2 linked regions of the Homo sapiens genome follow. The protein of the gene in region 1 purifies or fractionates together with the protein of each later gene. This does not show direct contact. Each region holds a gene or a part of one and is shown on either strand. Other genes may lie near its edges. The genes, in order: EEF1AKMT1 and TTLL12.

What was found.
Region 2: the proteins of EEF1AKMT1 (region 1) and TTLL12 purify together in Homo sapiens (affinity purification with mass spectrometry; 2 studies listed by BioGRID and IntAct, with this or other methods). This does not show direct contact.

The regions. Positions count from the first base shown.
Region 1 is NC_000013.11:20,772,052-20,775,651, forward strand, and holds the start of EEF1AKMT1 (EEF1A lysine methyltransferase 1), read right to left. Parts: upstream 1,911-3,600; 5' UTR 1,870-1,910; exon of another isoform or gene 1,806-1,869; intron 1-1,805. UniProt on the Homo sapiens protein: Protein N-lysine methyltransferase that selectively catalyzes the trimethylation of EEF1A at 'Lys-79'.
Region 2 is NC_000022.11:43,184,794-43,188,910, reverse strand, and holds the start of TTLL12 (tubulin--tyrosine ligase-like protein 12), read left to right. Parts: upstream 1-1,776; 5' UTR 1,777-1,841; coding exon 1,842-2,018; intron 2,019-4,117. UniProt on the Homo sapiens protein: Negatively regulates post-translational modifications of tubulin, including detyrosination of the C-terminus and polyglutamylation of glutamate residues. Also, indirectly promotes histone H4 trimethylation at 'Lys-20' (H4K20me3).

The sequences.
Region 1 (3,600 bases):
TTTTTTAAATCACTATTTTATCATATCTTTATTGTTTTTAAAATTTCTAAGGGGGTTTATGAGATTTTTCAAATCCAAAAGAGCTGGGAAGTACTGTGTTATATTATTATTATTTTTAAATTTTTTCTGGCTACTCTGGGCACACTGTCTATGGCTGGCCCTGCCCCACAAGTGGCAGTAAAAAAAATTTTTTTCTTTAGATTTTAAAACTTGTACCTATGGATTATATTGAAATTATATTATTATTAAGCTGACCTTGGACCTTATGTGGCTCAGACTCTAAATCAGCAGTTCTCACAGAATGAGGAGCCCTTTTGTCGCTAAGGGGAACATCTGGCAATGCCTAGAGACATTTTTGGTTGCCGTAAATGGGAAGGAGGGTGCTACTGGCATCAGGTGGGTAGAGGCTGCTGAACTTAAAATTCACAGGACAGCCCTCCACATTAAAGAAGTATCCCGCCCTACAAGCTGCAGTTGAGAAATTCTAGGTTAGGCAGACACATGGCGAACACCAACGGTAAGGTGGAGGCCCTCTATAGAGAAGCACCATTCACGCCATGGGATCAGAGTGGAGGGCCTGAGTGGGGAGAGGAGTGAAAGAGCAGGTGGAGCTTCAACTCGGCCTCAGGAAAAGGTAAGGATGAAGAGTGAAGACTTCAGAAAGATGGAACAGCATGAGCAAAGGGGCGGACACGTTAGCTTGCAGCATAAGCAGGGATTAGCTGGCTTCTCAGGGGCTGTGGTTAGTCTCTTTTTGGATAAAATTACTCAATTTCCATGTTATCAAATTTACTTAGGGCAAAACCACCATACTGTAATTTCAACATTCATTCTTGTGTGAAATTAGGTTAAGATAGTGTGATTCAGAGCAAAGAGCATTAACCTAGGAGCCATCCCAGACTCCAGTAAACCGCAGGAGAGCAAGGCTCCCTCTATGAATGGGTAAGGCCTAGATATTCTCCAAATACTTTTTATAAATTGCTGGATGATTCTCCCCTTAATCCAATTTACGTCCAGAAAAGGGCCAAAGGTTTTCATTCTGTTTTCATCTTTGAGTCCCCCTGCCTCAAACAGTTCCTTCCTTCTTGCTTTCCAGAATTCTATTTATCCTGTTTTTAAATTAACTTTAAAAAGGAGGTAATGCTTACAATGAAATGCAGGTCGTACGTGTGCAGTGCGACGTTGTGATGTACGCCCCATGTAACCACAACCCCTATAAGGAAGGCCTTCCTGTCTGACATGTGGCTCCCTCCCGGTAGGGACCCGCTATCGTCCCAGCACTTCTTCTGCACCTCCGAAGCTACTGCCCGTTTCGCAGTAAAGCCGCCCGCGTCCTAGTCTACTCCACCTCGCAGCACCCGCATCCTGCAAGGGACCTGCCTCAGAAGCCCCAGCGACAGGCGCCGCGGGTGCCCGCCCTCCAGGAGCGGACAGTCAGGCCTGGGCATTTCGCAAACTCCATCAGCGAACTTCTGAGGGCAAAGATGAAAAGGACAGCAGGCCGAGTCCTGTTTCTACTCGGAGGGAAGGGAGGCCTCCACGCGCTGCCGTAGCCTGGGGGTTAATTTCCCCGTCAGCACCAAGGCTGCCTAAGGCCCGGGCGCCAACGTGCGCGGCACAGGACGCGGCGCCTTCCGGCGACCGGGACGCGAGGCCCAACAGCGCCTAACACAGCAACCAGGATCCACTCTCAGGCCGGCGCCAGCTCCTTCCCTCAGGAATCCGCCAGCCACTGCTAATTAAACTCTTCCACCACTACCACCCTGGAAAAAAGGTGAGAAACAAACACACAAAAGGCACCTAACCCAGTCCAAAACGCCTCGGCGGCGCGCAGCCAACCCTACAGCTGCGCCCGAACCCGCCACTCACCAGCCGCGCGTGCGCAGTCGCCCAGACTCGCCGTGTGCAGTGGGAGTGGCTAGCCAGTCTCGCTAGCGCAGGCGCAGGCCCTCCCGCCCAGGCCCTTGCGCAAGGCAGGCCATCTCCCCGCAGCGTCTCAATCCCGCGTTTACAACACTGAGGGCCGTCTCCAGCCTGGAGTCGTTCCTTCGCTTGTCTCATCAGCCGCCCCCAAGAATGGTAGCAAAAAAACAACAACAACAAAAAAAATGAAGGCCCTGGCAGGGCGCGGTGGCTCACGCCTGTAATCCCAACACTTTGGGAGGCCGAGGCGGGCGGATCACCTGAGGTCAGGAGTTCGAGACCAGCCTTACCAACATGGTGAAACCTCGTCTCTACTAAAAAATACAAAAATTAGCTGGCCGTGGTCGCGTGCGCCTGTAATCCCAGCTACCCAGGAGGCTGAGGCAGGAGACTCGCTGGAACCCGGGAGGCAGAGGCTACAATGAGCCGAGATCGCACCACAGCTACTCCAGCCTGGGCGACAGAGCAAGGCAACATCTAAAAAAAAAAAAATTAAGATCCTAATTAAAGTTAAACCCACTATTTTGCACTGAGTCACGTAGATTTTCAAAGTCAAGGCTTCATTGGTCGATTGTCTGCTCAGTCTTTTTAAATCAAATCGTTGACTTTAAATGTTGACATCAAATTGAGGCTTTGGTAAAATTGACAGGATTGGCGGTAGCGGGGGGGAACCTTTAAAACTTGTTAGTCTTTCAGAGTCTTCAGTTTTGAATGAGTTGGTCAATATATGTATTTAGACATCAAGCGCCGTAAGTATGTATGATTTTTGTCAACAACACCTTAATTATCTTGCACATACAGGCACTGATTATTGAAAGGTTCCCTTACGTTTTAGCAGCTACCAAATTATAAGTGATACAAAGTATTTGTTTCCAATTCCCCAAGAAATCAATCTGTATTATGCTTCTACCCTCTCTTTCCTCCATTTTCTTTACCAATTTCATGATCTTGCTAAATTTTATATATTCTGCTGAGCAATGTGAAAATCCTTTCTGGTATAAGGTAAGGATATAAACTGTTCAGCTGGCAAATGATGCTATTCAGTAAGTAGTTAATGAAACAGGTTTATAACATTGGGTGTACTATAATTTCTATTTTAAGAACTGTTTCCAGTTTATAATAACCCATGCTACATTTTGACTTTGTTTTGAATTGATGACAAGTCTATTAACCAAATATTTCAAGATCAGGTGTATTCTGGAAAAGGAACAGGAAGAAAATATATTTAAAAAACTAAAAGAAATTTAACACAAACTGAGAAACAATAACCAACTTTTATGAGTGCATTTTTTATGGAGGTGGTGTTCAGTAAATAAGACTGCCCTAGCTTATAACTACTTTAACAGAAGTTTACATTCAGTCAAATTGAGTCTGAAACAGTAGATCATTTTCTTTCAAAGCTGACATTGCTTTAATAGCATGTAAGACATGTTATCTTCATGTATTTTACTATATACTATTTTTACTATGAAAGTGACCACAGATGTCAGAGTTTTTTGTACCTTCACTAGACCTGATTGCTCAGACAGCATGAGAGTAATACAGTAAGATTCATATTTTCCTGGTGAAACCTATGCACTGTAATTTAATGGTTTTTGCAAATCATAAACATGTAAAATATCAAAGGAGTACTTATTCTCATTAAAGGGGAAATTACTTGTCCAGTTAAATTGGATA
Region 2 (4,117 bases), on another chromosome or scaffold:
TAAAAATTTCTTTTTGTAGGGTCGAGGTCTTGCTTTGTTGCCCAGCCTGGTCTCAAACTCCTTATTTCAAGTGATCCTCCTGTCTTGGCCTCCCAAAGTGCTGGAATTACAGGTGTGAGCCAGCATGCCCCATCCTAGCATTGTGATGCTGTTTTACTATATTATTTATTTTGAGATGGAGTCTCGCTATGTTGACCAGGTTGGAGTGCAATGGTACAATCTCAGCCTTGGCTTCCACAACAAAAACCGAGGAATCAGGGTTTTCCTCTGGCCATGGTGAAACCCTGTCTCTACTGAATACAAAAAATTAGCCAGGCGTGGTGGCACACACCTGTAGCCCCAGCTACTTGGGAGGCTGAGGCAGGAGAATCACTTGAACCCGGGAGGCAGAGGTTGCAGTGAACCGAGACTGCACCATTGCACTCCAGCCTGGGCAACAAGAGCAAAACTCCATCCCAAAATAAATAAATAAATAAAATGTTTTTCTCTGCAGCCCTCACCAACTTGAGTTTGGAAATTTTTGCCTTTGCAGACCCACCTGCTTCCTACAATGGAATTGAACAAGTCCGTGAATTGGTGCATTTTATTCAAACTCAGTTCAAAAATGTTATCAAAATAGCATCTGAAGCTCCAAAAAATTTTCAGCCTTTGTTTTTTAGCAAATTACAATTCTTACAAAATTGCAAAAAGGAAGACATTGAAATGTATCCCTATGGAGCAATAAAACTCAATGAGAGTTCAAAAGAGAATGTCTTTTGAAATTCTATAACTGAACTGTTTTCTTTTAAAGAGGGAGTCTGGCTATGTTGCCGAGGCTGGACTTGAATTCTTGGGCTCAAGCTATCCTCCCGCCTCAGCCTCCCGAGTAACTGGGACTACAGACGCGGCCACCACGCCCAGCTCAACTGCACTTCGAAACATCCCGACATGTAGGAGTAAATTCCTCTGACGGGTACACTTGGTCTTAATTGGATCAACTGACATTCCGAATCCAAATATAAGTAATTGAGAAGGGCCACGATTTTGCAGCATCCAAATCTGGTGAAACGCTCACAAGAATCGAGAGCTCCCAAGGCAGGGGGCCTGCGAGCTCTGTGTGCCCGGTGCAGGCACAGAAGCGCCGCCTCACCGGGTTCGGGCCCCAGGACACCTTCCGGGCCGTCGGTGGGGCCTTTTCCGGTCCTGACAGCGCCCTATACGTAGGCACCCCGCCCTCCCGGCATTCCCCGGGGTCGCCGCGCGCTGAGCGAGAAAAGCTCAGCCACCATCAGGTGCGCGTGCGCACACGGCGGCAGCCAAACCACAGGCGCGGTCGCAGACGCGCGCCCCCTCCTGGCAAGCTCGCGCGCTCTCGCACGCACCCCGCCGATGCGCAGGGCCTGCCCGGGGGCCGCGGCAAACCGGGCTGGAGGCGGACTGGGGGCGGGGCGGGACGGGGTGAGGGGGCGAGAAGAGGGCGGGGCAGGGGAGGGGTCGGGGGGGCCGGGAGGAGGACGGGGCGGTGGGGAGGGGGGCAGGGGGCGGGGGCAGGGGGCGCGGCAGGGGCGGGGGGCTGGGGGGAGGACGGGGCGGTGGGCGGGGGGCTGGGAGGAGGACGGGGCGGGGGTGCTGGGAGGCGGGCGGGGCGGGGGGCGGAGGCGGGGGGGGCTGGGAGGAGGGCGGGGCGGGGGGGGGCTGGGAGGAGGGCGGGGCGGGGGGGGGCTGGGAGGAGGGCGGGGCGGGGGGGGGGGCGCTGGGAGGAGGGCGGGGCGGGGCAGGGGGCGGAGGCGGGAGGGCAGGGCCGACGGACGGCGGGCGGCGGCGGCGGTGGCGGCGCTGGAGTCGGCGCGGGTGCTGGCGCCATGGAGGCCGAGCGGGGTCCCGAGCGCCGGCCTGCGGAGCGTAGCAGCCCGGGCCAGACGCCGGAGGAGGGCGCGCAGGCCTTGGCCGAGTTCGCGGCGCTGCACGGCCCGGCGCTGCGCGCTTCGGGGGTCCCCGAACGTTACTGGGGCCGCCTCCTGCACAAGCTGGAGCACGAGGTGCGGGGAAGGGCGGCGGGCACGTGCGGCGGCCGGGGTGGGAGCGCGGCGGGAGCCCGCGGCGCGGGACAGGGAAGAGCGCTCCCGGGCGGCGGGAGCCGCGGTGAGCCACCCAGAGCGCGTCCTGGGCAGCTCTGGAGCGGCGTGGAGTTGGGGGCCGAAGAGTGACAGCAGGAGACCGGGGTACCTGCGGCCCTGATCTGCCCGGGCCCGAGACCGGCTGAGGGCTGCGTTGGGAACTTTAGGTCCTCCACACACCCGAGCCTGACACAGCCCTGCGAGGAGTGAAACTCATCACCCCCACTTCACAGATGAGAACACTGCGGCTCCGAGAGTCCCTTCAGAGGGATTCTTTCAGCCGCTGCCTCACAGGGACAACGGGAACCCCGTGAATTTGTGTAGCTGTAACTGTTGGGTTCACAGAATTCGGTGTTTTTTCATTTGATTTGAGCCTCGGGGTCCCCTCATCTTGCAGGTTAAAGAAAACAGGCTGTGAGAGGTGGAGGAGAAATCTAAAGAAAAATGGAAAAGATTGAGAAGCCTCTAGGTTCTCTCCCTTTTTGTGAGGACGGCCCATCCGGCTCACCTGCCTCCTCCACTCCAAAGCGTTCCCCACTGTCCTGGCTGGGGATGAGCCCTGGATTTTTATTGCGTGCCCAGAGGCTGAGGCCACAGCACCTTCCCGGGCTGGCGGGGGGGGGGGTGTTTTCTTTAGCTGGGACCCGACATCTCCTCCAGGTGCTGTCTCCCGGACGGAGATGAGCCTAGTGGCGCAGGTGATGAAGTGGAAACCCCAGAGCCAAGAACAGGGACCCGGGCCGGGAACTAGGAGTCCCTGAGCCTGGCTGCTGGCCAGACTCTACGGTCTCTGAGCCAGTTTTTCTCTGTGTAATCCTGATTGGACTAGGAACCTTCCTGCTGGAAACGTGCAGTGAGTGGCACCTCCTTATGCTACAGTGTAACAGAGAGTTTCCTCTGCCCCTCACTTCTGCCATATGCTTTCCGAGGACCACTCTGGTCCCAGGCCTGTGCTGGGTGGAAGGGACCTTGGTTTGTTCATGAGGACAAAAAGGTTCCCATGGGCTGCGTGGAAGGAGCACAGTGGGAATGACCAGCTCCTGCCCAGCCAGCCTCCACGGCAGCACGCCCTCCCTCGGGCGGTCACTCGCCCGTCTGAGACCTGTTCTCCATCTGGGAAGGGGATGGTGAGACACCATCTGGCTCCCACAGTATTGGAAGGATGGGAGGTGGCATGAGAAATATGCCTGGCACACAGAGGGTGGTCGCCACCGTGCCACGTCCCCTGCCCAGGCCGCCTTGCCTGCTGTTGCCCTACTAAGGGGCAGCCAGTGTTTTTCCGTGACCCTTCCCCAGCCGTTAAGGACAGAGCTGAATCACTGCTTTACCATTCACAAACTTGCAGCTCTTCCTGAGTGAAGCCTCCTGCTGCTACTGGCCCAGGTGTGGAGGAGGCCGCCAGCAGCAGCAGCACCTGCCAGCGCTGTGGGCCCTTACACCCCTGGCCATCAGCCCTCCTGCCTCACCTTAGGCCGGCTGCCCTGGAAAGGATGGGGAAACTTGAAGATACATACATATATATATATATATATATATATATATATATATATATATATATATATATATAATTTTTTTCTTTTTTTAATTGAGACGGAGTCTTGCTCTGTCACACAGGCTGGAGTGCAGTGGCATGATCTCGGCTCACTGCAAGCTCTGCCTCCCGGGTTCAAATGATTCTCCTGCCTCAGCCTCCCGAGTAGCTGGGATTACAGACGTGCGCCACCACACCCAGCTAATTTTTGTATTTTTAGTAGAGATGGGGCTTCACCATGTTGGTCAGGCTGATCTCGAATTCCTGACCTCGTGATCCGCCCGCTTTGGCCTCCCGAAGTGTTGGGATTACAGACGTGAGCCGCCACGGCCGGCCGAAGAGATGTTTTTAAAATGTCTACTCTTCTGTCTGCACAAGCTTCCCAGTTGCAAAACCACTCCCCTTATCTCCTGGGGAGCTCTTCCAGTCCTGCCATGAAGGGGTTGTGGTGAAGGAGAAACCCAGCACCCCATTTCACAGCTGGGTTGAA